Linked DNA regions of Homo sapiens. The protein of the gene in region 1 purifies or fractionates together with the protein of each later gene. This does not show direct contact. Each region holds a gene or a part of one and is shown in the gene's direction. Other genes may lie near its edges.

Region 1 (7,429 bases):
CACGGTGTGAGATTTCATCACAATACTCAGAATGGCATGGTAATTAAAACTTATGAATTGTTTATTTCTGGAATTTTCTTTCTTTTTTTTTCTTTTTTGAGACAGGATCTTGCTCTGTCATCTGGACTGGAGTTCAGTGATGCAGTCATGGCTCACTGCAGTCTGGACAGCCCGAGCTCAAGCAATCCTCCTGCCTCAGCCTCCTGCATAGCTGGGACCACAGGCACGTGCCACCATGCCCGGCTAATTTTTTTTTTTTTTTTTTTTTTTTGAGACAGAGTCTCACTCTGTCACCCAGGCTGGAGTGATCTCGGCTCACTGCAAGCTCCGCCTCCTGGGTTCATGCCATTCTCCTGCCTCAGCCTCCTGAGTAGCTGGGACTACAGGCACCTGCCACCACGCCTGGCTACTTTTTTGTATTTTTTAGTAGGGACGGGGTTTCACCGTGTTAGCCAGGATGGTCTCAATCTCCTGACCTCGTGATCTGCCCGCCTCAGCCTCCCAAAGTGCTGGGATTACAGGCGTGAGCCACTGCACCCGGCCTAAGTGTTTATAATTTGTAGAAACGAGGTCTTGCTATGTTGCCCAGGTTGGTTTCAAACTCCTGGGCTCAAGGAACCCTCCCTCCTCGGCCTCCCAAAGTGCTGGGATTACAGGCATGAATCTCTGTGCCCAGCCCTCTTGAATTCTTTACTTAATATTTTCAGACCATGGTTGATCATGGGTAACTAAAACTTCAGAAAGCAAGACTGTGTATATTCCTCAGCGAATGATTCCAGTACTGATTTTGTCTGTGCTTGCTGGCAAATTAGAATTGAAGTGCTAAGCATGGTTTTGTCATTGAATTTCGGATATTTATGTCATCCTTGCTGTTTGCAAGAAGTGTCTGGAAGACTTCCGTCCCCCTCCCAGGAATCTTTGGTAGAGTTGAGCTCTCCTTTCCCTTTCCTGTGATCCCCACCTTGTGCTGAGATCCTGTACTTAGTTTCTCATTCTGTGTTGTTTGTTCTCCTGCCTAAGAACCTAATCCTGATTCCTGGTGTCTGATCCCCTGGACTTCTGATCCATTTCCTGAACTCAGGTCCACTGTGACCCTTAGCTTTCAGAATCTGCTCCATTCTGTGCTTGCCTCATGAACTTTTTTATCTAGCTTCTCTCGTCCTGGGGCTTCCCTGAGTCTATTCCCTGATTCCAGCCCACAGCCCAACACTCACAGTAGGAAGATTTTACTATTAATATCAGATCCATTATTACTGGCTGTGTGACCTGGCAAGGGACTTAGGCTCCCTGAGTCTCAATTGCTTTCACTGCAGAGTGGGGACAATAAGGCTCCTGCTCCATTCACCGTATAAGGCAATTAGGATCAGATAAACTATCATGTGCGAAAGTATCTTGCGAACTATCAACCATTAACCAAATAGAAGATTTTTAAAATTATGACTATTACCATCATCATCAAGCTAGACTTATGAAAAATTTACTATTTGACAAAATACTAATCTTTGTTTGCTTCACCATGTCCATACCAGACTGCACACAGATCAAAGTGAGCACCAATAGTGTAAACTGGGAGCTCCTCAAGGGCAGCATTTCAGATGGTGCTGGGGATTTGAGAAAATATGAGAGATGTTTATATTTATTTTTATCTCATTCCTTTAAATATGTATTTTATGTGGTTTCTGATTTTTGCACTATATTGCTGTGGTAATGTGTAGTATTTATAAAATGGCTGTGAATGCTGACAGTTTTTTACTGACAAGGGTGATGAATTTACAAGTTTGCACTGGCCGGGCGCAGGGGCTCACGCCTGTAATCTCAGCACTTTGGGAAGCCGAAGGTGGGGGTGGATCTCTTGAAGTCAGGAGTTAGAGACCAGACTGGCCAACATGGTGAAACTCCATCTCTACTAAAAATACAAAAATTAGCTGGGTGTGGTGGCACGGGCCTCTAATCCCAGCTACTCGGGAGGCTGAGGCAGGAGAACTGTTTGAACCCAGGAGGCGGAGGTTGCAGTGAGCCGAGATTGCCCGCTCCACTCCAGCCTAGGTGACAGAGTGAGACTCCGTCTCAACAACAACAACAAAAGTTCGCACTAATCTAATAACCTAATAAGGCTCTGATATAGGAACCTTCATACACTGCTGGTAGAAATATATGTATCAACCATTGAAAGACAAAATTACAACAAATTTAGTTACAGATGTAATGGCTTTTACTTGCAATTCATGAATTGGGGCAGATCCCATTATACAAAATAGAACGAGAGCTTTTCCTGGGAAATAGCAGAGCAGTGAATTTTGTAAGGTTGGAGCAAGGAAAAAGAACAATTTTTTTTTTAAAGCTGATTGGTTAACATCAGATTGCTTCAGGTTGCTTTTTTATAAAGGTTAAAGCAAAGGGGACTTTCAAGCTAAAAGTGGCTTGTATGGGGATTTGGCTATTATCCTGTCTCTTTCTCCTTGGAAGGTCAGATGAACAATTTAGTTTTGGCTTGGTGGCATGGAACTTCAGCGTGAGTGACTCCATTTTGGTGGGGCCTAGAGCAGGAGCTCTGTCCAAACTAATGACCTCCTATAAATTTGAACATGTCTTACAATATTTATAGCCAATTACAAAGTAATTCTACTTTTAGAATTTTATCTCTAAGGAGAGTCAACTAAGAAGAGGCAAGAGACCAAGCTGCAATGCAGGAGTTTATTGGGGCATTAGGAACTGCAATTCAGGAGACACAGATTCAGCTCGAAGTCAAATTGTACTCCAAAGATAGGAAGGGGAGAAGGAGTTTTTAAGAAAAAGAAAAAGGAAGCTAAGGGTGATTACACAAGTTCTTTTAAAGAAATTATTATTGGTGGAGGCGGCTGGCTGGCATCAGTCCATAGTTCATTGGTTGTTGTTCAGGAGACGCAGCACTAGTGAAATATAGCTGGTTTCCAGGACTGTGTGGTCATTGCAGTTTGGACCAATTCAAAGGTTCGAGGCAAGTTCCTGTTGTGTTTTAATTTTGTTTTGTTTGTTTTCCTTTTTGCAAGTTTGCAGGGAGTCCATAGAATGGCTTCCAGGCGGGCCAGGCACGCGGTGGTTCACGCCTGTAATCCCGGCACTTTGGGAGGCCGAGGCGGGCGGATCACCTGAGGTCGGGAGATCCAGACCATCCTGGCCAACACGGTGAAACCCCATCTCTACTAAACATACAAAAAAAATCAGACGGGCATGGTGGTGCATGCTTGTAATCCCAGCTACTCGGAAGGCTGAGGCAGGATAATCGCTTGAACCCGGGAGGCGGAGGTTGCAGTGAGCTGAGATCGCGCCATTGCACTCCAGCCTGGGCAACAAGAGTGAAACTCCGTCTCAAAAAATAAGTAAATAAATAAAAATAAATAAATAAATACATAATAAATAATAAATAAAATAAATAAATAAATAAATAAATAAATAAATAAAGCCTGGCTTCCAGGCTCCATCTTACAGCTGTTAACCAGAGTTACACCTGGTATATCACATTTGTATATTTGTAAATTTGTATATCACATTTCACAAGAAATAATCAGGGATGAGCATACAGATCTATGTTTAAGAATGTTCGTTGCAACTTTATTTAGAATAATATTTGAAAATGTTCTAAATGCTAAACAATAAAGAAATGGATAAGTAAACTGTGTTTAGGCTTATTGTGCAGCTTATAGAACTAAAATAAGATTTGATATTAGTTTAAGAATTGTTTTTAAATAAAAATAAAATAAATAGAAGCCGAACCGTGCCAGGCCTGGCAGAAGAATGACAAGTGGGAGGAGTAAAAGCCGGAAAGAGTGGTGGCAGGTGAAGTCGGAGACGACAGAGGAACTGGTTTCCTCCGCCCCGCAAGGCACACAGCCTGCCGACGCCCCATTAATACATGTGGAAGGGGAAAGAGACTGAATGGAGGAATGAATACAACTTGATCCAGGTCGTGCTTCGGAAGCGGTCACTTTACCTGTGAACCTCTCTGCCTGACAAACGGGCAATGTACGGAATCAACCACCAAGATGGCGGCGCCCGTGAAGAATCCGCAATTAGGTCGCCGTCATATGTCGCCTAGGAACGTACGGAATTCGACCCACGTACGGAATCGGATTCCAAGATGACGGCATCTATGAGGAAGTCACGCAGTAGGTGCAGCCATGTTGCCTGTACGTCGAGGCCGTACAAGCAGCCGCCGTACGGACTCTACTGACAAGGTGGCGGCGCCCTCGGGAAAGCCACATTAGAGCGCGGCCATGTTCCCGGCGAACATATGGATTCGGCCACCATACGGATACGATAAGCAAGATGGCGGCGCCTGAGGGGTCTTGGGGGCTCTAGGCCGGCCACCTACTGGTTTGCAGCGGAGACGACGCATGGGGCCTGCGCAATAGGAGTACGCTGCCTGGGAGGCGTGACTAGAAGCGGAAGTAGTTGTGGGCGCCTTTGCAACCGCCTGGGACGCCGCCGAGTGGTCTGTGCAGGTTCGCGGGTCGCTGGCGGGGGTCGTGAGGGAGTGCGCCGGGAGCGGAGATATGGTAAGTAGCGGGTCCAGGGAGGGGTTCGGCGGTGGAGGTCGGTCGGTTGGCAACAGTGGGGTCTGTCGGCCGACTCAGGGGTCTGTGGTGAGCCATAACCGGAGTCTGTGGACTGAACGGCGGGAGTCTATGGGCAGAATGATGAACCATCTGGGAGTTCTATGGTGAGCCACGGTGGGGGGCTCCTTAATAGAAGTTTAGTGGGGACTCCGTGTGGCAGTTCCGTGGGAAACCATGATCGGGGGTTCTTAGGGCAGAGGGATAAGCGGGTTGTAAGGAGTCACATTGAGTGGTCTGTAGTGAGCCGTGACGAGGAGTCCGTGTCCGGGTATCCGTGGACAGCCGCGACTGGGGGTGGGTGCGGGTGCCAGGTGGGTCTATGAGATAAACAGGGAGGGGTGCGTGGAGAACCGCGATGGGAAGTCCGCAGTGAGTTACGCGGGGTCTGTGAGGCGCCACGATGGAGGGTCGCCATGACCCATTAGCGAGTGTGGACGCAGGGAGCGGGTGTCGGTGGGTGCGTGATGGGAAGTATGGAGCAGAGTAATAGGATGTCAGAGGAAGGGATGGGGGTCAGTGGGGACTGTGATGGAGAGGTTTTTTGGGGGCCCCGATGTGAAATCTGCAGGCAGAGTGGGGATCCCTGCTGACCACGGTGGAGTTGTAATGGGGGGATGAGCCGCCACGGTGGGGGCTGCTTAAGGATCCGTAATGGGGGTGTCCTGCAGGAGGGAGATGGTTCAGACCCAGAGCCTCCAGATGCCGGGGAGGACAGCAAGTCCGAGAATGGGGAGAATGCGCCCATCTACTGCATCTGCCGCAAACCGGACATCAACTGCTTCATGATGTGAGCGCGGGAGAGATGGGCGGGGCTGACACTGGCAGGGTGGGGTGAGGCCGATGGGCCGCGCCCCTCACATCTCCATCGCCTGCCCCATCCTCTGCAGCGGGTGTGACAACTGCAATGAGTGGTTCCATGGGGACTGCATCCGGATCACTGAGAAGATGGCCAAGGCCATCCGGGAGTGGTACTGTCGGGAGTGCAGAGGTGAGGGCCATGGATGGACAGGGAAGGCAGGTGGGGCTTCAAGGGAGGAGGAGGAGCCACAAGGGGGGGTTATGGGGATTAGTGATACACGTCTGTGGTGAGCTGGAATGGGGCTCCATTGTGAGTAATAGAAGATCCCACGGGAAGAGGCAGCTCTGCCCTGGACAGGGGTGCAGAGTAGGTGGGTGGGTCAGTAAGGGAGCGAAGAGGAAGAAAGAGGTTTTGGGACCATTCAAGCCATCCAGTGCTCACTCACTTTGGCCCTACTCTCTGCCCCACAGAGAAAGACCCCAAGCTAGAGATTCGCTATCGGCACAAGAAGTCACGGGAGCGGGATGGCAATGAGCGGGACAGCAGTGAGCCCCGGGATGAGGGTGGAGGGCGCAAGAGGCCTGTCCCTGATCCAGACCTGCAGCGCCGGGCAGGGTCAGGGACAGGGGTTGGGGCCATGCTTGCTCGGGGCTCTGCTTCGCCCCACAAATCCTCTCCGCAGCCCTTGGTGGCCACACCCAGCCAGGTGAGTGGCTGCATAAAGTGAATGGATGTGTAAAGTGGTTCCGTTTCAGCCCTGCCTGGGTCCATGATTTCTGTTCTGGGCCCCCTCCTGCAGCATCACCAGCAGCAGCAGCAGCAGATCAAACGGTCAGCCCGCATGTGTGGTGAGTGTGAGGCATGTCGGCGCACTGAGGACTGTGGTCACTGTGATTTCTGTCGGGACATGAAGAAGTTCGGGGGCCCCAACAAGATCCGGCAGAAGTGCCGGCTGCGCCAGTGCCAGCTGCGGGCCCGGGTGAGCATGGACAGAGCTGGGTAGGGTCAGGTGTGGGAGAGCTGGTGGGTCCATGCATGGTTAGTTAAGTCTAGGCATGGATAAACCAGGTGGGATTGGGCCTGACTGTATCCTGACAGGTGGGAAGGGGCCTGTCATGTCCAGATGAATGGGGCATGACCTGGTATGCTGGGCTGGCAGAACACCCCCACCAACCCTGGGTAGACAGAGTGGGGCCAGGTGTTTTCAGGTGGTCATGCATGTTGGTACAGATCAGGCAGGGCTGAGCATTCCTGGCAATGAGGGGTAGCGGGGAGGTGTGTCTGGGGAGGTAAGGCCAGGCCAGGTGGGTAGGGCTAGGGCAAGGCCGCCCTCCATCCACCTGGGGCTGACCTGGGCCTTCCTCCTGCCGGCACAGGAATCGTACAAGTACTTCCCTTCCTCGGTGAGTCCAGCCCCCCAGGGTGGGGTGGGGCATGCGGGCAGGGCGGTCAGGGCCAGTCCTGAGATTCTGCCCTGCAGCTCTCACCAGTGACGCCCTCAGAGTCCCTGCCAAGGCCCCGCCGGCCACTGCCCACCCAACAGCAGCCACAGCCATCACAGAAGTTAGGGCGCATCCGTGAAGATGAGGGGGCAGTGGCGTCATCAACAGTCAAGGAGCCTCCTGAGGCTACAGCCACACCTGAGCCACTCTCAGATGAGGACCTACCTCTGGATCCTGACCTGTATCAGGACTTCTGTGCAGGGGCCTTTGATGACCATGGCCTGGTGAGCAGACAGGAGCATCCACTGGTGGAAGGGTGGAGGTTACAGAAGCAGAGAGTATCCCTAATGAGGAGACAGAGGGTATGGAAGGCTGATATGGGACATGAGTAGGTGGTGGGGTTGTCACGAGCGGGGCAGGTGGGTCAGTGCATGCCCTGCTTGCAGCCCTGGATGAGCGACACAGAAGAGTCCCCATTCCTGGACCCCGCGCTGCGGAAGAGGGCAGTGAAAGTGAAGCATGTGAAGCGTCGGGAGAAGAAGTCTGAGAAGAAGGTGATGGAGAGGGTAAAGTGGATGTGGAAAGGCAGAGGG
Region 2 (7,021 bases), on another chromosome or scaffold:
TGCCTTTGTTTGTTCCAGATATGGTTGTGGTATGTGTGTTTTATTGTGTTTCTTAAAATGGCAATTTTGGGAGAACAGGTATATATATGTATAGATAGGCAGAGTGGTTTAGAATTCACATCCAATTTTTGCTAATATTTCGCATCAACTCCTATTTATCTCGATGTATTGCAGGGTGGTGGCCTTGTCCATGTCACCTGTGGATGACACTTTCATTTCTGGGTCTCTTGATAAGACCATTCGACTCTGGGATCTCCGGTCTCCTAACTGCCAGGTAATGGTACCTCACAGTTATACTTTTTGAGCATTTTCTTTGGTAGGCACTGTAATGAACTCTACCTCTCAAAGAAGGGAGAAAACAGTGGTTCCATTCTGGGATCACAGGGTCTTTTTAAACTTTGGAGAAAATCTGTTTTTTTAGTTGGTAGCTGCTAAGCACATACCCTAATCTAGTGCAGATTGCATTGTACTCTGTGGCTTAATTGTTGTGGGTTTTTTGTTGTTTTGTTTTGTTTTTGTTTTTGTTTTGAGACAGGGTTTCGCTCTTGTTGCCCAGGCTGGAGTGCAATGGTGCAATCTCAGCTCACCGCAACCTCCACCTCCAGGGTTCAAGCGATTCTTCTGCCTCAGCCTCCCAAGTAGCTGGGATTACAGTCATGCACCACCATGTCTGGCTAATTTTGTATTTTTAGTAGAGACGGGGTTTCTCCATGTTGGTCAGGCTAGTCTCCTGACCTCAGGTGATCCTCCTACCTTGGCCTCCCAAAGTTCTGGGATTATAGGCGTGAGCCACTGCGCCCAGCTGGCTTAATGTTTTTAAAAGTGTTCCTAGAGCTTTTAGCTTCAAGGGATTTATTTTTATTTGAATTCTGTGTCTGTAATATTGTGCAGTTAGAGTTGATCAGAAATTGTTGTCTGGAGACCTGTTTTTTAAAAGCTTCATTTTAGTTTTATGTTTTTTTTGTGTGTGTTCTGTAGGTAGGCTGATATTTGTTTGTATGCCTTTCTTAGTTTTAATTGGGAAAAGTAAATTATATAGTGGTAAGGTCCTGGATTCATTTTTTTTTCCCCATTGTACCAGCAGTCTTTGGTTATTCCACGTATGGTTGTGGCATGTGTGTTTTAGTGTATTTCTTATTTCTTTTCTCTTAGGGCCTCATGCATCTGCAGGGGAAGCCAGTTTGTTCTTTTGATCCAGAAGGGTTAATTTTCGCTGCAGGTGTCAACTCTGAAATGGTCAAGCTTTATGACCTTCGTTCTTTTGATAAGGTAAATCTTTGAATCTTTGAGATCTTTGAGCTGTTTTTTGTTTTGTTTTGTTTTTGAGACAGAGTTTTGCTCTTATTGCCCAGGCTGGAGTGCAGTGGTGTAATCTCAGCTCACTGCAACCTCTGCCTCCCAGGTTCAAGTGATTCTCCTGCCTCAGCCTCCCAAGTAGCTGGGATTACACGTGTCCGCCACCACGCCTGGCTAATTTTTTGTATTTAGTAGAGATGGGTTTCACCATGTTGGTCAGGCTGGTCTCAAACTCCTCACCTCTGGTGATCCACCCACCTCGGCCTCCCAAAGTGCTGGGATTACAGGCGTGAGCCACCGCGCCCGGCCCTGTAAGAGCCTTTTCTACAAAAGGAAAAATGTGGTAGATATTAGAGAGTGGCAGAGAAGTAGCTCATTCTCTGCTTTCCTTAGTCAAAAAGTAATCTAAAGGAATAGGATGGGAATTGGCTCTAGCAGAAGAAATTATTAATATGCCTGGGGCTACTGTTTTTTATCTTTTGCAGGGGCCATTTGCTACCTTTAAGATGCAGTATGATCGAACTTGTGAGTGGACAGGACTTAAATTCAGCAATGATGGCAAGCTCATCCTCATTTCCACCAACGGCAGCTTCATTCGTCTGATTGATGCATTCAAAGGAGTGGTGATGCACACATTTGGGGTGAGCTGACAGCCTTCAAGCATGGCTGTTTCCATGCTCATACTTCCTATGCTAAGAATTATGTTAGCTGGTTGGTGGAGACCAACAGTTACTCTTGACTTACTCATGAAGGCATGCACTTGTATTTTCTTCCTGCTCATGAACTTACCTCTCTTGGATTTCGTAGATGTTCATTTCTCACCAAGTGACCCAAGTTTGGTATTTAGATATAAAATAATTTCCTAACAATAAAGTTTTCTTGCCCCCTTGAGTATGCCTTGAATACAGAGTTGAGGGTGGGAGTGGATTGTCAACGATGGCAACCACATTTGGAAGCTTGGTGGTGTAGTACATGACAAGGAAAGGGTTTCATGGAAAGGAAGGTGATGCATGTGCTGAGTCAGTGTTTGTAGGCAGCTGTTTTTATTAATGGCTCTGTAAGAACAAAAGAACTGCTCTGTTTTGTTTTAGGGTTATGCCAACAGCAAAGCTGTCACACTGGAGGCTTCATTTACTCCAGACTCTCAGTTTATTATGATTGGTGAGTTTCCTTTTATCCCCTGTGGGGGTTATTTCTCTGGTACTATGCATTTCTTTGTTTAAATTATTAACTGAGACATTATTATCTATTTGATAGATGTTCTTAGATTTCTGTATAGCACATTATGCCAAGGACATAGTGTCTTTTAACTGCCCTGACTGGACCAAAATTTGAGTTAAACTCCACAAGCACTACCTTATTAGTAATGCTAATGTCCTGGTGTAACCCTACATTCAGTCATCTTAGTGGCTGCCTGTTGGTAGGGTAATGGTATTCGGCCCCTTTTTTAGATGAGAAAACTGAAGTTAGAACGGAAGTGACATGCCTGTGAACAAATAGCTAGGGTCAAGATAAATTTCCAAAGTGTCCTTCCTTCACTGCCTCTCCTCCCTCTCAATTTTGCCTGAGGGATGGGTCCTAAAGCTTGGCGTATCCTCAGATCTCAATCCATGTCTCATTTCCAGTTGTCTTTGTATTGCGCCTTGAGCTGTTACATTTTCCGTGAATATCCTCTTTAGGTTCAGAGGATGGCAAGATCCATGTCTGGAATGGAGAGAGCGGTATAAAAGTAGCTGTGTTGGATGGTAAACACACAGGCCCGATTACCTGTTTGCAATTCAACCCCAAGTTCATGACTTTTGCCAGTGCGTGTTCCAACATGGTATGTGAACAGTAAGAGGTATCTGCTACTCAGGGACCCTTCCCAGTTGGGGTGGTGGGTGCCTCAACAAGCACAGCAAGCTGTGTTCTACATAGGTACATTACAAGCATCCAAGTACATGTTTCTCAACTGGTGGTTTCCCTATTTCATCTCCTATTATTTGATCTCTGGCTGGGCTGGTCTTGCCTTTCATTTTTATTCTTCCTAGAGGTGATCAGGAATCATCTTTGAGTTCCAAGGAGATCATAGGCCAGTTTTTGCTCTGGACCCTAATTTTAGGTCCAAACTACCTGGGCTATGCTTGGCAATTTTTTTGCTCCTTAAAATACTCTGAACCGGCCTTTTGTGGTTTCAGTTTTCCATTCCTGTTGGTTTACGCCAAATTCCCAGAAATTTCTACAGTTGGTCATAACTCACCACTTAGAATTAACTCCAGGCCCTTATCTCTTCCTAGATAATACTAACAGAACAAAGGATCAGTGAGTCTCAGCTCCAGTTTTCCCTTGTGATCTCCTAAACCTGCCTGGGTATTCGGGGATGAGACATTTCATTACTAGCCTACCCGGAGCACATTGCCACCTTGCTTTTTTTTTTTAACCAAGAAAAAAATGTTAGAAAAAATACAGCAAAACCATCCAGTTCCTTACTTTTTACAGCCCAGGAAGGTGGGGGCCTGTTGGAGGTAACCTGGTGGATTAGCAATGAGGACAGGTTACTTATTCACCCACCTCCCAGGCAGCACTCCTTTTTTTCCCTTCCTTTAAAAAAAAGGGGGCGGGGGGTCTGCTTTGGTGGAAGGTGGACAGTGATTATTGGAGAAAAACAGAACCATTTTACTTTCACATAGAGGAAAGAGTGTTTCTGTCTCCTTAGAGCATCGGGGTTGGTTGGTTAGGAGAGAGGGCTACCAGAGCCACTGGGGTTGGGCACATTTTTGCTGTGGGGTGGGATGTGAAGAACCGTTGGCAGTGAGGAGATGCTTGGCTTTTTAAAGTTGATTTATGTTCTCCTTCTAGGCCTTTTGGTTGCCCACCATTGATGACTGACCCTGTTGCTGCTTGGCTATTTCTGTATAGTGAGGGCGGCCAGCAGGAAGAAACTCAGAGGGAACTGAGATAATAGTGGGATTGGATCATTTGACTGGGCTGGAGAACATCCTTTTACATGGCCTTCCCATGGATGTGCTGTACATCTGCTCAAAAGAAAATAATTACTTTGATGAGCGTCTTCAAAAGGACTCTTGGTGCAACAGACTCAATTGGAACTCAGCTTTTCTAACTGTCACTGCACCAAGCTCTGCTGGAGGAGTGACCAGACTCACGATTTGGTATAGTGGGGCTCTCAAGCATCTTCAATTTGAATGTACATGCTGCTGAGGAGCCGGTGAAGTCATCAGTTCCGCACATCCCTTCTACCCTCCAACTGCATGGGAAGCCAAAGTCCTGGTTTTGAAATGCTTGGGCAGCTCAGCCGCTTGCCCTCACCCTGCATGTCTTGTTACTGGGTCTCCCTGTGTACTTGTGGCATTATCCACAACCATCATGTTTCTTAGGTGCCAAACATTTACAGAAACATTTTCATATATCTTGGGGTCAGAGAAAGGGACAGATACAGAAGGACCTTGCTTGCAGGAAGCCATGCAGTTAGTTTCTGCAGTTAGTCGTGTGAGGCTAGGTGGTTGGGCAGGCCTCGGGCTGTAGGTGTTGGGTGGGAAAAAGACCCAAGGGCCTGAAAGGGAGGGAAAGGGGAGGGTAGCGGGAGGGTAGCAGGTGAGTTCCTAGGGCTGGAAGGTTTAGCAGCAGCCTGGTGCAGTGCCCTGTCATCAAGACAAACCCACGGTCCTCCTGGGTGCCTACCAAGCTTGGTTTGTACAAAAGCAAGGTGGGAGTCTATTTTTGTACATGAGATACATCACACTTACCTGTGGGCCAGTATTGTGAAGTGAGTCTGAGTTGTTTACACTGATGCCTTCCCTGCCCACCACAAATTGTGTACATAGTCTTCAGATGATACCACCCCTTTCCCCAGCTCCCAACCAAGAGCTGGTTCTAGGCCTGTGTTATATGTCATATTTAGCGTTTTTATATATGACCTTTGATTTCTGTTGTTTGTATTTTAGCACAGTGTATGCACCTTCATTTAAATACATCTGTGTGCATACAGATACGCATATATGTGTGTGCGTATGCATATATCTCTCATCTGTAGTTTCCAAGAGTTCAGCTGAAGCAGATGGAGTCCTGCAGCCCAGGAGACACCCTGCATCCCTGCTAATAGTGTTTGCCACAAGTATTAGTGAGTCTTCCTTATTAATATTTTCATTTCAGAAGACTGAAGCAAAGCTGATAGTGTTTGCTGTTTCTTTGGCAGCTAAGTGAGGGTCTTGGGATGACTTGCTGTGTTCCTCAAGCTGCACTTTGGGGCCATCTCTGCAGTATTAGCCCCCTTTTTGCTTGGTGGTACTCTGTCTGTGCCTGTGTGTGTGTGTGATAGTCACTCTTGCATGGCTTCCATGTCTGGTTTGTGGCATTTGGGGATAAGGTGCTGAAGCCAGAGCATTTGCAGTTTGTTTGAGGCCTCGTTGCCAATGATAGATCACTCCTGTTGACCTGGTATGTCTGCTTGCTTGCTGCTTTTCCTTGCTTTCTCTTGGAAGAGGAAAGGACTCTGGTCAGGCCCAGGCTGAGTGAGATGAGCTGCAGCTGGCTCATGGCCTTCTTAGAGCAGAGAGAGGAGTATGTCATTTTACTAAGTTCCTAAACAAACATTTATGCAGGCAACACTCCTTGCAGATCCAGAAACTGAGGCACAATAGGGTTATGACTTGCTCAAGAATATGTAGCTGCTAGGGGGTAAATCAAGGCATCACAATTTCTGTTCAGCGGGCAGGAATAGGCTGTGAATTGCTAGCACTTTTTTTTTTTAAGCAATTACTTTTTGACTTGTTCCTCTGAAAGTGCAAGAGGCGTACACCTTTCCCAAATGTAGACTAGAATCTGCAGGATGCCACCCACTGTATAGTTCTGCTTTCCCAGAGAGGAAGAACTTTTAGAAACCAAATGATCTTAATTGTTATTGCCCACCCCTGGCTTTTCCGGGTAGAAAATTCACAGTAGGAATGATTGTTAAGAGAGAGTGCTTGGAACCATGGGTTAACAGGAAAGGCTACCTAACTTCACATATCTGCAACCAGAGCAGCCACCAAGCATTACTTAGCAGCAGGAAAATGATTGTATTTGAGTTCCTGTGTGTCCAAAACTGAGCACCATGTTCTTTGAAAACATGCCACCTCAAGGCTGGGCGCGGTGGCTCACACCTGTAATCCCAGCACTTTGGGAGGCCGAGGCGGGCGGATCACCGGAGGTCGGGAGTTTGAGACCAGCCTGACCAACATGGAGAAACCCCATCTCTACTAAAAATACAAAATTAGCCGGGCGTGGTGGCATGCGCCTATAATCTCAGCTACTTGGGAGGCTGAGGCAGGAGAATTGCTTGAACCCAGGAGGCGGAGGTTGCGGTGAGTTGAGATCGTGCCATTGCACTCCGGCCTGGGCAACAACAGCAAAACTCCGTCTCAAAAAAAAAAAAAAAAAAATGCCACCTCACAGTCTCTATCGTTGGGCCCTGTGGTTGCAAAGCTGCCTCCTGAATTAAGAAGGAAAGGGAAAAGATATAGCTGGAAGCGAGTGGAAGAGATGCTGAGGGCTGGGGCTGCACAGACGTGCTCAGCAGGGCTACAGGTGCTCAAGCCCTATTGGGGATGGGTGGGGAGTGGGGCAGCGGCGTTTGCCACCTTAAGAATTGGGGCCAAAGCCACTGATGTTTATTTGACAGTGACACTGCACTGGGTACTTAAAGAAATTATTTCCCGTTGTAATTATAATTACTGCTTATTAAGGAAAA
Region 3 (7,496 bases), on another chromosome or scaffold:
CCTGTCTCAAAAAAAAAAAAAGGTGATATTGTAGACATCAAGAGAATGGCTACTGTTCAAAAAGGAATGCCCCACAAGTGTTACCATGGCACAACTAGAAGAGTCTACAATGTTACCCAGCACGCTGCTGGCATTGTTGTATACCAACAAGGGCCTGATTCTTGCCAAGAGAATTAATGTGCGTATCGAGCACATTAAGCTCACTAAGAGCCGAGATAGCTTCCTGAAACACATGAAGGAAAATGACCAGAAAAAGAAAACAAAGAGAAAGGTACCTGGGTTCAACTGAAGTGCCAGCCTGCTCCACCCAGGGAAGCACAGTTTGTGAGAACCAATGGGAAGGAGACTGAGCTGCTGGAATCTATTCCCTATGAATTCATGGCAAAATAAGTGTTAAAAAAATAAAAGACCTCTGGACTGCAAAAATGTTTCTCTTCGGCTGGGCGAGGTGGCTCATGCCTGTAATCCCAGCACTTTGGGAGGCCCAGGCAGGCAGATCATGAGGTCAGGAGATCGAGACCATCCTGGCTAACACAGTGAAGCCCCGTCTCTACTAAAACTACAAAAAAAATTAGCCGGGCATGGTGGCGGGCACTTGTAGTCCCAGCTACTCAGGAGGCTGAGGCAGGAGAATGGTGTGAACCTGGGAGGCAGAGCTTGCAGTGAGCCAAGATCGCACTACTGCACTCCAGCCTCGGCGACAGAGCAAGACTCCGTCACAAAAAAAAAAAAAAAAGTTTATCTTCATTGAGTAGAAGTGTGGTGTCTTCTCCCTTAAAGAAATATTTAAAGCACATTTTAATTGTGTCCTAATTCATTATGTAATGTCTTTACTGTTCAAATTTAACGTATTTCTTGCTGAAAAATGTGAGGTAGCTTATTGTGGAACAAATTACTCAATTGGTTAGAAAATGGCAAGATATTATTTATGAAATATTTGTACTGGTTTGAATATAGTCCCTCTAAATCATCATGGAAGAAATAAAATAATTTACCAAAAAAAAGAAATTATATACTCTTTTCTAGAGAGACAATCAGGAGGAAACACAGCAAAGACGTCATTGGTAGGAAATGCTGACTGCTTAAAGCAGTCTTTTAAAAAGATTTAAATGTATGCTTTTTGTTGTTGTTTTTTGGGTATTTAAAACACTCATCCCTAGGACCTGTATTCATACGAAAAGAAAATCACCTTGGAACAGCCAAGGCAGTGCAGATCGGTGACCCAGATTCTTTTCAATGTATCTAGAATGTTTTTCAAGGCTACAAAATTGTTCAAGTTACATTGCAACCAGTATAATGTGTCTACCCAGTGTAACTTGAACTCAGAGATACAAAGATGTATCTTTTAGATTCAGTGTGTGTTATTCAATAAGGCAATTAGGGCACATTTGAGAAAATGGATTGTGAACCATTATAAAGTTCTCATCTTCTTGCATTGTAGAAAATATTTAAGATTTTCTATATACTGTTCACAAAACAAATTATTTATTAGCCACTGACCCAATTCATTTTTAGCAGTAAATACTTTATTGTCTCATTACTTTTTTAAACTTGGACATTATGCCTAATTAAATTTGTAAAGTTTTTCAGAACTTTTATGGATGATTTCTACTTAGTTATTCCCAAAAAGCTGAATAAATTTGATTCACACATCCAAATATACCAAAGAAATACCATGTCTTTTTATCATACCACACACTTAAAAACTTATAAACTTAGAATATAGCAACATATATTATATTGTATTGTTGGTAATTAAGTAAATGTTATAGTCTCACCTTTTCATAACTAATTTTTATTTTTTTTTATTTTTTTTTTGAGACCCAGAGTCTCACTCTGTCGCCCAGGCTACAGTGCAGCGGTGCGATCTCGGCTCACTGCAAGCTCCGCCTCCCGGGTTCCTGCCATTCTCCTGCCTCAGCCTCCCAAGTAGCTGGGACTACAGGCGCCCACCACCACGCCTGGCTAATTTTTTGTATTTTTAGTAGAGACGGGGTTTCACCGTATTAACCAGGATGGTCTCGATCTCCTGACCTCATGATCCGCCCATGTCGGCCTCCCAAAGTGCTGGGATTACAGGCGTGAGCCACCGCGCCCGGCTCATAACTAATTTTTAAAATGAATAAAACATTTATATTTTACGCTATTTTAGTCTTGTAATCTTGACTGCTTTTTTTTTTTTTTTTTTTTTTGAGACAGGGTGTCACTCTGTCACCAAGGCTGGAATGAAGTGGCACCACCATAGCTTATTGCAGTCTTAACCTCCTGGGCTCAAGCAATCCTCCCACCTCAGTTTCTCAAGGTCTGCAACATCACACCTGGTTACTTTTTTGTTTTGTTTTGTTACTGGTCTTGAACTTGTGGCTTCAAGCCACCCACCTGCCCCAGCCTCACAAAGCTCTAGGATTACAGGGGTTTGCTGCCACGCCCAGCCTTGACTGCATATAGTAATTAATCTTTTAAGATTCATATCCATGACTTTCTCCTCTCTGCTATCTTCATCAAACTCCTCAAAACACACAGGATACTCTGAATTGAAACAATGAAGTCAAATTGTTTCTGATTTAAAGTAAATCTGATTTGTCTAGTTTGACAATGAAAATGGGCTCTGTTAATTAGGTTATAAGGTAAACATTTAACATTCTTAACAAACCTTTTTTTTTCTTGTTTTTGAGAAGGGTCTCACTCTGTTGCTCAACCTGGAGTGTACTGGCCCCATCATGGCTCACTGCAGACTTGACTTCTTGGGCTCGGGTGATCCTCCCACCTAATCCTCCCAAGTAGGTAGGACTACAGGTGCACGCCACTACACCGCCTAATTTCTTTTATTTTTTTGTAGAGGTGGGGTCTTGCCATGTTGCCCAGGCTGGTCTTGAACTCTGGACTCAACCGATCCTCCCGCCTCAGCCTCCCAAAGTGCTAGGATTACAGGCGTGAGACACTGTGCCCAGTGACAAAGATTTTGAACTTGAATGAGCTAAATCTGCAGTTGCAAATTTTGACAAAAACATAATTTAACCACCTGATAACAAAAATAAATCTTATCCAAAACTATTTATGAAAATGAAAAATGTTTAGATATTCTCCAAACTTTCAGTATATCAGGTGAAAGGTACACCTCATTGAAAAAATCAGGTCTAATTCATAGTCATTTGGTATCTTGGTAAAACCTATCTGGTATATTTCCCAGAATCTGAAAGAGTGAAAAAATAAGGATTAAGTAAACAAATCCTTTGGCAAGCCAGGTGGTTTTCAGCTCTTTGCTTTCCATAAAATAGAAGGAGGGCCTAATTGAAGTCAGCTCATAGATAATCAAATCTAATTTTTTGAGGTCAAGAATTGAATGATATTGCTACAACAAAACTCTTCCATTCCTAGGCACAGTACTTGTTTATATGAACAAGGTTTCTCAGGGCACACAGCTATAAAAATTACAAATAGGAATAGAATTGATGCTCAACCCTTCTTTTCCTACTAATAAGATATATTCAGCCACAGATGTAGGAACTTTAAAAAGCAACAATATGCATTTTTCAATAAAGTTACACACACTATTTAGTAATTATGAAATTTTCTAATATTTATGTTGCTTTGACCACGTACTAATAATAATTTCAAAGATGATGCAGTCCAAAAGCAGGTGATTTGCTAGCTGTGTAATCTTACTCAACATACTTAATTTATCTGAGCCTTGGTTCCCTGATTTGCAAACTGGGGACAGTAATCAGACCTAGCTCTTAGTGTTTGTCCAAAGATTAAATGCGTTAATACATGTAAAAGCACTTAACGCCACGCTTGGTACATAATATGTGCTATAGATGTTTTACCTGCTATAATCATAGTAATCAATAGCAAATCTCCTAAAAATAAAAGCCTGTCGATTTGTCTTCACAGATAGGAAGAACGGGCTGGAGGGATCGGATCTAATCCACAGGCACACTGCCAGAAACAAGGGACCCCCACGGGGAAATGGTATGTGCAGGCAGAAGAGAGACAGAAGGAACTTGGAGCTACCTGCTGGGACAAGAATAGTGCAGGATCACAGGCTAAGAACGAAGAGGGTTGGGCGAAGTTAGAATGAGCAGATCCACGTAGGGTTCGCATTACAAATGTCTATGGATCTCTATGCACTGCTCCGGGAAACTGGAGCAAGAGAGGCAGGCCTAAAATGCCGTCGCGGATGAAGCGGGGCCAGAAACGCACTGCCCCCGCTCAGACCTAGGGCCCCAGGTGTCGCGCGGGTCGAAGCCCTAACCTCCAGGGACTCCAGACCCCTGCCGGTGACCTAAACCCCACAACCCGCGACCAGCACAGTCTTGTCGTCTCCGTCGCCACAGTCGCCGCCACTTCCGGCGCAGCTCGGCCTCGCGAGGGCGCTTGCGCCCGGCGACGGTCGAAACTGGCTCTTCGCGGCCTCCGTCGCCGGACTTTCGTCAATGTTGTCACCGTCTTTTCCTCCTTTCCCCCAGTTCCCTTTCACTTCCGGGGTTGCTCTGGATCCGCTGGTTCCGTAACAACATCCCGTTGGCTTCCCTCAGGCGGCGGGACCAGTGCAGCCGCCGCCTCCCAGGATCGTCCGCCGGTCAGGGCCCTTGCCCTCCCCGGCACAGGCCACCATGGCCACCAACCCACAGCCGCAGCCGCCTCCTCCGGCGCCGCCGCCTCCCCCGCCGCAGCCGCAGCCGCAGCCACCGCCGCCGCCGCCGGGCCCCGGGGCTGGCCCCGGCGCGGGCGGGGCGGGCGGCGCGGGTGCGGGCGCCGGGGACCCGCAGCTCGTGGCCATGATCGTGAACCACCTCAAGAGCCAGGGGCTCTTCGACCAGTTCCGCAGAGACTGCCTGGCCGACGTGGACACCAAGGTTAGGAGCGCGCCGGGTTTGGGGGTCTGCGAGGGAAGGGGAGGACCCAAGGGCGCGCTTCTTTTGCAGTGGCTTCCTCTTGGAGCTGCAGCTGTGTGCCACGGACTGTGCAAAGCACAGAGTGTTCATTCCTTAGCGTGTCCTTTGGTTCGTTTTACCGACTAGTGTTTAAGTACCTACTACGTGCCAGTCATGGTTTCGGCACAGTGATTACCCCGGTCTGATGAGCAAGACTAAGGCATTGTTCTTACAGGAACTGGTTTGGAAACAGTGGCGCTAACAGTAGCCAGTTTTGTATTCATTCTCATATCTGATGATTTTACTTTGTATCGAAGTTATGTTTGCCTTCTTTCTTGAAGGTTTCTGGGCGGTAAGGGCCTTTATCCTTTGGAGAAATGACTAAATGGTAATTGAATCAAGTTATGTGTAATATGCTTTGCTGGACATCGTGGGGGTGGGAGCGCAAAGATAAGGAGGCAAACCTGAGACAGGACTTTAGTATTGTTTCTAGCAGTGATTGCCTGATTTAGGTAACTTAGGCCATGTCACCATTCTAAGGTAAGAAGGGACAGGAAGGTGGGGTAGAGAGAACCGAGTCATTCAGTGGAGAAAAGATGCAGGAGAGGTGACAGCAGATACTGAAGTGGAGAAAGGACAGGAAAGAGAGCAGATTCAGGAGAGTAATGTAGAGAAGGGAAAGGACAGCAACAAGGTTCCCTGTCCAGAAAGAGAGGCTGGAAAGGGGAAGGGATTTTGTACCAAATGTCAGAGTGAAAGGGACATTAGCAGGAACAAGTAAACTTAGCTGGATTGGCAAAGAATTAGCCAAAGACACCAGGAAAGAGCAGTCAGTGAGATGGATGGAAAACCACAGTACAGTCTAGAATTCTGGAAGCAGAAAGCATGTTGGAAAATTAACTGGTTTGTAGGGGTTGTTTTTGTCTGCTTGTTAAATCTGGTTGGGTCCATTGGATTGGAGTTTTGATGAAATGAGGGTTTCCTTTTTTTTTTTTTTTTTTTTTTTTGAGACAGAGTCTCGCCCTGTCGCCAGGCTGGAATGCAATGGCGTGATCTCGGCTCACTGCAACCTCCGCCTCCCGGGTTCAAGCGACTCTCCTGTCTCAGCCTCCCAAGTAGCTGGGATTACAAGCGCGTGCCACCACGCCCTGCTAATTTTTGTATTTTTAGTAGACACAAGGTTTCACCGTGTTGGCCAGGATGGTCTCGATCTCCTGACCTCGTGATTCGCCCAGTAGGCATGAGCCACCGCGCCCGGTCGAGGGTTTTCTCATAGTATGTTTAGTTGTTCTGAGGAGCTTTGTATCTTTGAGAAATGCATGTTTACAACATCCACAGTTTCTTCTAAAGCTTTCAGGTGAACTGCACACAGTTCCACTATGTCTTCTGGGGAAACTCTTGAATATCCTGGTACATCTTCCTTTATAAGGACTCATACTGGGCCCACTATGTAAAACGTGGTTTTTCGGGATATTGGAGGTTTTGCACCACAGAGAATTCAATTCACTTGGGAGTGTTCATCTATTTAGGAAGTATAGTTTTTTTTACTTTTGTCTTCAGGAATATGCACTGCTACCTTTTAGAAATAATTTCTATTGCCTTTATTATTTTTGTTGTTATTTAATGGGAAAAGGTTAGACATGGCCAGGTAAATGTTATCAAATAAAGTTAGTTATTCGTATTCAACAAGTGGAATTTTTACTTTGCTGTTCTCAGAAACCCATGAATCTGTGTGTTCTCAGAAACCCATGAATCATTATGTATACAAATTAAAAATTGTAATGTACTGCTGCAATGTCTGAGGCTCAACTTTTTTATTATCCTATTCCCACAAAATGTTATTGGTATGTGTCTATAATATCCCTGCCAGACCCTTCAAAGTAAAGGATTAAAACCTTTTTTGGAGGGAAGGAGGGAAGCACAGTATCTCTGATCATCTAATGAAAGTTAGGACCTTCTCTCAAGAAAAATGCGCAAGTAACACATTAAAACGCTGTTTTTCTACTTCAGAATGGTCAACTATAGGCAATTTCATGAGAATCAATCTAATAACATATACAGTTTCAGTGAGTTCAGGAACCATGGAATAAGAACCTATTTTAATGTTCTTAGCCTCTTTTTTGAGGTCAAGAATTGAATGATATTGTTACAACAAAACTCTTCCATTCCGAGGCACAGTACTTGTTTATATGAACAAGGTTTCTCAGGGCGCATGACTATAAAAATTAGAAATAGGAATAGAATTGATGATCAACCCTTCTTCTAGTAATAAGACATATTCAGCCACAGATGCAGGAACTTTAAAAAGCAACAGTATGGCCAGGCCCGGTGGCTCATGCCTGGCCACCGTGGGCCAAAGTAGAAGATTCCCTGTTCATGCAAAGAACCATCACTTTAATGGAATCCTTGAGTTTCATCTGCCACTTGAACCTCAAAGACTGACCTGCTTTCTGTCAAAAAGTCTTAACTTGTAGCATATAGAGTTATAGTGGATTATGTCTGTCACGTGCATATTTAAGAATGAAGACATTTGATACCTGCCAGGTGCTAAGAGCAAAACTGTCATCCAGTTTAGTGTGTTTAAACCAGGATGAGAAGTACCAAAGTCTGCTGCTACAC
Region 4 (6,973 bases), on another chromosome or scaffold:
GCACCCCAGACGCCGCCCCTCCCCCAGCGGCCCGGGCGGCCGGGGGTGGCTGAGTCAGAAGGTTCAACCCCGGCCCGGGCGGCGGCTCATCTGCATTTCCAAAGGCCCGCCCCGCCCGCACCCTCCCCGGGAAGGGCCGGAGATCTGAGGCTTCGCCGGGAGCCCCGCGCCTCGGGGGATCCCGGGGCCCCCCCTCCGCTTTCCCAGGCTTCCCCCACCTCCTGCCTGGAGAGCTGGGCTGGAGGGCTGCCCAACGGGGCGTCTGCGGCCACCCCGAGGGCCTCCCGCCCTGAGTGAGGACAAAGGGGGCGACCCCCCGCCCCGCGCTGACTCGGCTCTCAGAGGGCGACTGGGAGGTCGGACCTGGGCGCCCAGAGCTGGGTGGGCAGCGGGGGGCGGCCTGGGGTCAGGGCCAGGCCGGTCCGCGGCTTCCGGAGGAGCCGGTGGGACCCGGGGCGGCCTCGAAGCCCCGCCGACCCCGTGGCCCTCGGCTGCGGGCGCCCGCGCAGGACAAAGACGAAAGAGGGAAGCGGTCCGGGGCGAGGCCTCCTGGTGCCCGCGTGGGCCGCCGGGTCGCCCAGCCCCCTACCCCTGCCGCTCCTCCCGCCCGGCGCGCGGCGGCCGCCACCGCCCCAGCCACGGGCAGCGCGCGAAATGGCGCCCATCAGGCCGCCGCGCCCGGCTGAGGCGAGCGCGGGAGGCGCGGCGCGCGACGCCCCCGAGGCCCACGGCCCCCGAAACGGCCCCCGACACCCGGTCGCCAGCGCTGCGCCCCGCGGGCTCTCGGGGCCCGACCTGGCCGCGGGCCCGCCTCCTGCTCCGGGCTCCCCACGACCGGGGGGACGGAGGAAAGGAGGAAGGAAGGAAAGAGAGCCGCCGCCATTAGCAAAGCAGCCCTGCCCGGCTGGGCCCGCCTGCCAGACCAGCCCGGCCCAGCCGCGACGGGCTCGAAGCCTGTAAAGAAAACTGGTGTTTGGGAGGAGGAGCGAGCGCGGCCGGGAGGACAGCAGCTCCGGGCTGCGGGCGGAGATGCTGCGTCATGGTGCCAACATGGACGCCGGCCTTTTGTCCTCCTTCGCGTTGCCAGCGCAGGCGCGCCCCGGAGCCCCGAGAAGCCGGCTTCGGGGTGCGGAATCCTCACGATCGAAAGGAAAGTGGGCCCAAGGCTGGGCGATGAGGCTCCCTAGTGTTTTAAGCCCCCCCGTCTCCAAAGCACTTCAATTTCTTCTCCCCATCCAGGTTCAGACCTGGGAAGAGCGAGGGGGCGAAGGCAGGCGGCTCCATGGACCCCCGAGGGTCGCTGCGAAGCCCGTCTTCTCGCCCTTGGGGCAGAAGAGGCACAGGGGTCCGAAGAGCCCTTCGTGTCCCAACCCCCCGCCCACTGCCCGCTCCGGCTGCCAAATACAATGCTCCAGAATCCTCCTTCTCCTCTCAGCTCCCAAACACTTGCAGCCCTTGCTTGGCCTGCAAAAGGGTTTCCTCGAAGGGGCAAAAGGCACTTTTTATCTTTCTTACTTACCCGCTCAGCCCGGTGCCATGGAGTCTAGAAGATCAAGCTGGGCGGTGGTTTTGGAGACGTTATTGTAAAAACATATATATTTTTTGATTTAGTTGGGAAATTTGGGGGTTATGGTGGTGTCTTTGTTCTTATTACCTTTTTGTAAGTTACACCCTCACGTTCTGCTCCTTCCACTTCTGCAAACTTTCCAGGGTTGGGTAGGCAAAAAGGCGGCTTCGCTGAGGACTGTTTACTGCTCTGGATATAGCAATGGTGTGATCGTCATTAAGAGACAAAAGGCGAAAATACAGTCAAATCAAACAAAAGGCACAAGACGCACCAGCCGCCCAACCACCATAGAAAATACCCCCCACTTAACGTTGGTGTTTGCTGGAACCAGCTAGGACTTGTTTTCCAGTTTTAATCTAGTTTCCTGTGACGGCTTTAGTCTCTCTACACAAAGAAAAGGTCTTCCTTTCCCTCACCCACCAGCTCCCCCCAACCCCCAACACCAAAGACGAGAAAAACAGGGCTGTTTTTCTTCAAATAGATCGATTTTCAAAGAAAGTGTACAAGCTACGGGGAAGAAAGCTGACTAGCATTTAGTGCTGTAAACATTTTCAAAAGCATAAAGCTAGAACCTTAGCTTTATAAAGCAAGATCGTCTCAAGCATCTTAACTGGCTTATATTAGACAAGAGAGACAAAGACATACATGCAGATGAAGGTTCGGAAAATTAAGGACATCTCAGCAACATTAACATCAAAACTGTACTGCGTCAGGACAGAATGGATTGGGTACTTACAATGTAAAAGGTTTTTTAAAAACTAAAAGAGTAACAACTGCTCACAATTTTTTGTTGCTGCCATTTCGCTAGTCCTAAAGCTATATACATTTAAAACATTACCTTGTTAAAAAGAGAGAAGGAGTTAATAAGATGGCCAGGTTTAAGTGTTTAATAGAGGAAACTAGATATATTTAAAAATTTATTGTTCAGTCAAGAGAATACAGATTAAGACAGCTCCAAGCTCCCCCCACCCACCCATAGAACAAAAAGAGGAAAAAAAATATGTCATTTACTTAGGTTTTTTTGGAATTCAAAACTGTTAACTGCTGACATGAATGGTGTGCTATGACCTAGTTATACAAGACAAAGATGGATTCCAAGTCATAAGGAAAAATCCAGATCTTTTTAAAAAGTCTTCTCCAGTCTTCCAACTGTGAGTCCTTGGGCCTGTTGACAAATGTTAAACACACTGAGACGTCCTGAACTGGATGGTAGAGTCAAAGGAAAAACATTCCCCATTTGCAACAAAGGAAAAACCCACTTGGCCATTTAATTCCATTGCAGAAAAATGGCTTCCCTCATCTGTTGGCCTCTCCTTCGTGTCTGATGAAGGATGTTTTGAGATCAGCGTCTAATAACTCAAGCCCTATAGAAGCCGCGCGCTGATTGGCTGCCGCGCCCTGCCGCCCTGCTCCAGCCAATTACCTACCCACGGCCAAATTACAAACCCCGAAAAGAGCCCCAATATGAGCTACACCAGCTCCGAGCCCCGGCGAGGCGGCTCCTGCGCCTCGGCCGCCAGAGAGGAGCGGCAGAGGGGGCTGCAAACGCGTCCTCGCGAAGCCCGGGAGCCTCGGAGTTGAACTCACAAAATGGAAGCCGCGCGCTGATTGGCCGCCGCCACTCCCGGACCTTTAATAAAGAAAGGGGAAGGAAAAGATAAATGCAAAAAAGGGGGACTCTCTCCTCCGCGGGTGGCTGGAGGAAGGGGGGGAAGCATGTGTTCAGGACAATTACAGGGCGCTCCCCTCCAAAAATAAAAACAGAAGAAGGCGTCTATCGCCCAGGTCCAGGCGAGGGCTGCATCCTCCCAGGAATGCGAATGCTAACGTGGTGAACCCTGGTCTCCCTTCCCCAGCTCAGCTCCGGGGAGGGGGTCGCGGGCCGCAGGAGGAAGCCGGAGCGCAGATACCTCGATTGCAACTCCTCTGAGTCGACGCCGGCCTCCCCCCGCGGCTCCCAGCGTCCACACACACCCTCGGCCCCCCAGACCCCAGCCATCTCCCCGGGCCCCGCGCGCCCGCCTCCGGCCCGGGCAGTTTGGAAACAGTTTTGCAGGCCCGGGACGCACGCCGCGGCGGTCGCGGCTCTGAGGGTAGTCCCGGCCGCGGGAGGTAGAGCCCGGGGAGACCCCCTCCCCCGCCAGCCAAGACCCCCACCCCAGTCCCAGAAAAATAAATAAATTAAAAGGCCTTCCCCCGGGGAGGGGGAGGCAGTGTGGGAGCGCGCGAGTGAGGGGTGGGGGGCCGCTGGGGCCCGGGGCTTTGGCGGCGCAGCTGCCGCCGCCGGGAGAGTGCCTGGGGAAGCGGCGAGGAAGGAGAGGGGAGGAGGAAGAGGAGGAGGAGGAGGAAGAGGAGGAGGGTGAGCGCTCGGGTCGGGCTCCTTAGCGGTGTATTGTGGGATGTGCGGCTACTGGGAGCCGAGCCTCCGCCGCCAGCCGCCTCCCGGGCAGCAGCAGCAGCAGCGGCGGCGGCAGCGGCAGCAGCTCCGGGCCCGGCAGCCGCGGCGGCGGCGCCCCCCCTTCCTGGCCCCCGGTCCGGCCGCCCCGGCCTCGGCTCCCTCGGGGGACACCATGTACTGGCTGGCGGCGCAGGGAGGCCGGCGCCCGGCGGGGATGTAAGCGCGGCTCGGGGAGGGAGAGGCCGCGGCCGGCAGCCGGGCGGCCCAAGCCCCCGGCCCCGGCCCTGGCCCGAGCGGGCGAGCGGGCGGGCGGGCGGCGGCGCCGCCAGGCCCTGCCGCCAGCCTCGCGCCAGAGCCGGGCCGAGCTAGCGGGTGAGCGCCACGCCGGGCGGCCGGGCGGGCACCATGGGCCGGAGTCCGCGTCCTCCGGGCGCCCCGGGCCCCGCCAGCCCGCCCAGGGGACCCCCGGGAGCCCCTCGCTGCCGCCCCGAGACGGTGGCCGAGCGGGCGGGCGCGTAATTCTCCCGGAAGGGTTATTCTCTCGCTCCATTCTTGTTTTGGGGGGAGCCAGCGAGACAGCTCCTTTCGGGGCGCGCTGGCAAGGTGGGAGGGGGTGGGGGCCTGCCGATTGGATTCTTTCGCGTGTGTGTAGAAGCGGCCGCCGCCGCCGCCGCGGCGGAGACGACAACAACTTGCTGGTTTTCAGGTTGGGTTAACGGCATGGAGAACAGTCACCCCCCCCACCACCACCACCAGCAGCCCCCGCCGCAGCCCGGCCCTTCGGGCGAGAGGAGGAACCACCATTGGAGAAGTTACAAGTTGATGATTGACCCGGCTCTGAAAAAGGGGCATCATAAACTGTACCGCTACGATGGGCAGCATTTCAGCCTGGCGGTGAGTAGCCGGCGCGCCCCCCCAGCCGTGCCCCGCGTCGTGTCCGGGGAGACGCGCCTAGCGGCCAGGGACCCCCCGCCCGATCCCCCGGCCAACTGTCAGACGGGGCCCCAGCCCTGGAGTTTGACAAGTGCCTCGAGAAAGGGGTCTGCCCATGGGGAGGGGGACCAGTTCTCTCATCCCGGCCCCCCAATTTCTCCCCACAGATGTCCAGCAACCGCCCGGTGGAAATTGTCGAAGATCCCCGGGTCGTCGGGATCTGGACCAAAAACAAGGAGCTGGAGCTGTCGGTGCCCAAATTCAAGGTAGGACCCCTCCCCACTGCCCCGCCGTCCCTCCCCCACCTCCCCGAGTTCGAAAATAACGCCAGTCCTGACCGAGCCCAGCCGGATTCCCAGTTCCCGCCGTCCGGGGCCAGGGAAGTTTTGGCGGGGAGGGGTAGAGCGCTGGCGAGAGGGTGTCCCCTCTCAGCTACTGAAAACAAAATAACACTGGGTGAAACTGTAATCACGGCGCAGATACAGTGTCCTGCACGCCCCGCGGGGGGCTCGGCTCCGAGACTCTCCCCTCTCGCTAGCCCACTACAGGACAACTTCTTAAGCCTGAGGGGTCGCCCCTGACCCGGCAGCAGGAAGAGAAGGCCAGAAAGGGGGGTGGGGAAAGAGAAACTGTTTCTTTTTCCCCTTTCCTTCCGAACCCAGAGGACTTCCACGTTCCAAACGATTTAATCCTCCGCTTCCCGGGCCCGCCCGCGTGCATTTTTTTTTTCCAAAAAAAATTTTTTTTTTTTTTTTAATTTTTAGTTTTTTTACCCTTTATTGTTTTCAACGGGTGGGCGAGTTGCGGGCGGGGCGGGGGGGATGTTGTGTTTTCCCTTAGGTTTAAACGTTCTTCAAACTCCCTTCCCCCTCGGCCCCTGCCAGATCGATGAGTTCTACGTGGGCCCGGTGCCTCCGAAGCAGGTGACATTTGCCAAGCTGAATGATAACATCCGTGAAAACTTCCTGAGGGACATGTGCAAGAAGTATGGGGAGGTGGAGGAGGTGGAGATTTTGTACAACCCCAAGACCAAGAAGCACCTGGGCATCGCCAAGGTGGTCTTTGCCACGGTCCGGGGAGCCAAGGATGCCGTTCAGCACTTGCACAGCACTTCCGTCATGGGCAACATTATCCACGTGGAGCTGGACACCAAAGGTGAGCCTGGCAGGGGAGGAGCGTGGGGAGACCTGTCAGCCCGACCCTTTCCCTCCCCACCCTTCCTGCAGCGTGGGGAGGACCCCCCCTCACTCTTCCTTGGGATCCCCCCCCACAACCTTATTTCTTAGCCCCCTCCTGAGGGTAGAGTCGCGTGGAGCTAAATGTGTTGTCTGTTGCTAGGAGACAGTCTGTAATTTACCAAATGTGCCGGTCCTTGGCCACCGCACCCCTAGGGACCACCCGGAGGCTTCCCCACCGCTGACACCCCCGCGGGCCCCCTCTCTGAGCCCTGGTGGCTTGGGTTTAGACAGTCCCCAGTGTTGCCTGTGTTAGGGGAGGAGACAGAGTTTGTTTACTTGTGGGGGACTGAGGAAGTGCCACTAGGATGCCTTGAAATACATCAAGAGAAGGTCTGAAAACTGAAAAGAGAGTCCTCTAAGGATCCAGGGTGTCCCCCCACCTCCTTGCTGCCCCTTCCCCTCTGGAAGTGGCAGCCAATCTGGGGCCAGGAGTGTTGTTTCATTGATAAGGTTCTCGACAGAGCCGCCGGGGAAGAGCAGAGCCGGGAAGAGGGAAGAGCCAGGCAGGCGGCTCTGGGTGCTCAAGGGTTGACACTGTGTCTTCCCTCCTCTCTCTTAAAGAGACCGCAGCACCTCCCCTGCTCTGGAATCAGCTAGGTGCTCTCTGGAGCTGGCTGGGGAGGCCATACCTCCCACCCTGTGGGTCTTCGGAGGCCCCTGCAGGACCAAGGGGCTTGGAGGACTCGAGGGCATTCCCCAAAGTGTGCCTGAGGCCTCTTTAGGGAAGCTCCCACCTATAAAAGAAGGTGCCGAGTGCTTTGAGGGCCAGCCAGCTTGTGGGGAGATGTCATTCGGTCCCTAGCCCACCGGGGTCCCCTGGGAAACCCTGCCTGGGAG

The links.
Region 2: the proteins of CXXC1 (region 1) and WDR82 purify together in Homo sapiens (affinity purification with western blotting; 7 studies listed by BioGRID and IntAct, with this or other methods). This does not show direct contact.
Region 3: the proteins of CXXC1 (region 1) and BOD1L1 purify together in Homo sapiens (affinity purification with mass spectrometry; 6 studies listed by BioGRID and IntAct, with this or other methods). This does not show direct contact.
Region 4: the proteins of CXXC1 (region 1) and SETD1B purify together in Homo sapiens (affinity purification with mass spectrometry; 12 studies listed by BioGRID and IntAct, with this or other methods). This does not show direct contact.

What each region holds. Positions count from the first base shown.
Region 1 is NC_000018.10:50,284,693-50,292,121, reverse strand, and holds the start of CXXC1 (CXXC-type zinc finger protein 1), read left to right. Parts: upstream 1-4,429; 5' UTR 4,430-4,532; coding exon 4,533-4,535; intron 4,536-4,613; exon of another isoform or gene 4,614-4,696; coding exon of another isoform or gene 4,697-4,699; intron 4,700-5,263; coding exon 5,264-5,382; intron 5,383-5,482; coding exon 5,483-5,583; intron 5,584-5,864; coding exon 5,865-6,100; intron 6,101-6,193; coding exon 6,194-6,373; intron 6,374-6,770; coding exon 6,771-6,797; intron 6,798-6,874; coding exon 6,875-7,120; intron 7,121-7,282; coding exon 7,283-7,390; coding exon of another isoform or gene 7,391-7,402; intron 7,403-7,429. UniProt on the Homo sapiens protein: Transcriptional activator that exhibits a unique DNA binding specificity for CpG unmethylated motifs with a preference for CpGG.
Region 2 is NC_000003.12:52,254,633-52,261,653, reverse strand, and holds part of WDR82 (WD repeat-containing protein 82), read left to right. Parts: intron 1-174; coding exon 175-274; intron 275-1,152; coding exon 1,153-1,269; intron 1,270-1,781; coding exon 1,782-1,937; intron 1,938-2,387; coding exon 2,388-2,457; intron 2,458-2,975; coding exon 2,976-3,118; intron 3,119-4,134; coding exon 4,135-4,164; 3' UTR 4,165-7,021. UniProt on the Homo sapiens protein: Regulatory component of the SET1/COMPASS complex implicated in the tethering of this complex to transcriptional start sites of active genes.
Region 3 is NC_000004.12:13,624,708-13,632,203, reverse strand, and holds the start of BOD1L1 (biorientation of chromosomes in cell division protein 1-like 1), read left to right. Parts: upstream 1-4,478; 5' UTR 4,479-4,616; coding exon 4,617-4,859; intron 4,860-7,496. UniProt on the Homo sapiens protein: Component of the fork protection machinery required to protect stalled/damaged replication forks from uncontrolled DNA2-dependent resection.
Region 4 is NC_000012.12:121,800,053-121,807,025, forward strand, and holds the start of SETD1B (histone-lysine N-methyltransferase SETD1B), read left to right. Parts: upstream 1-3,956; 5' UTR 3,957-4,181; intron 4,182-4,321; exon of another isoform or gene 4,322-4,337; intron 4,338-4,671; 5' UTR 4,672-4,685; coding exon 4,686-4,859; intron 4,860-5,065; coding exon 5,066-5,164; intron 5,165-5,782; coding exon 5,783-6,053; intron 6,054-6,973. UniProt on the Homo sapiens protein: Histone methyltransferase that catalyzes methyl group transfer from S-adenosyl-L-methionine to the epsilon-amino group of 'Lys-4' of histone H3 (H3K4) via a non-processive mechanism.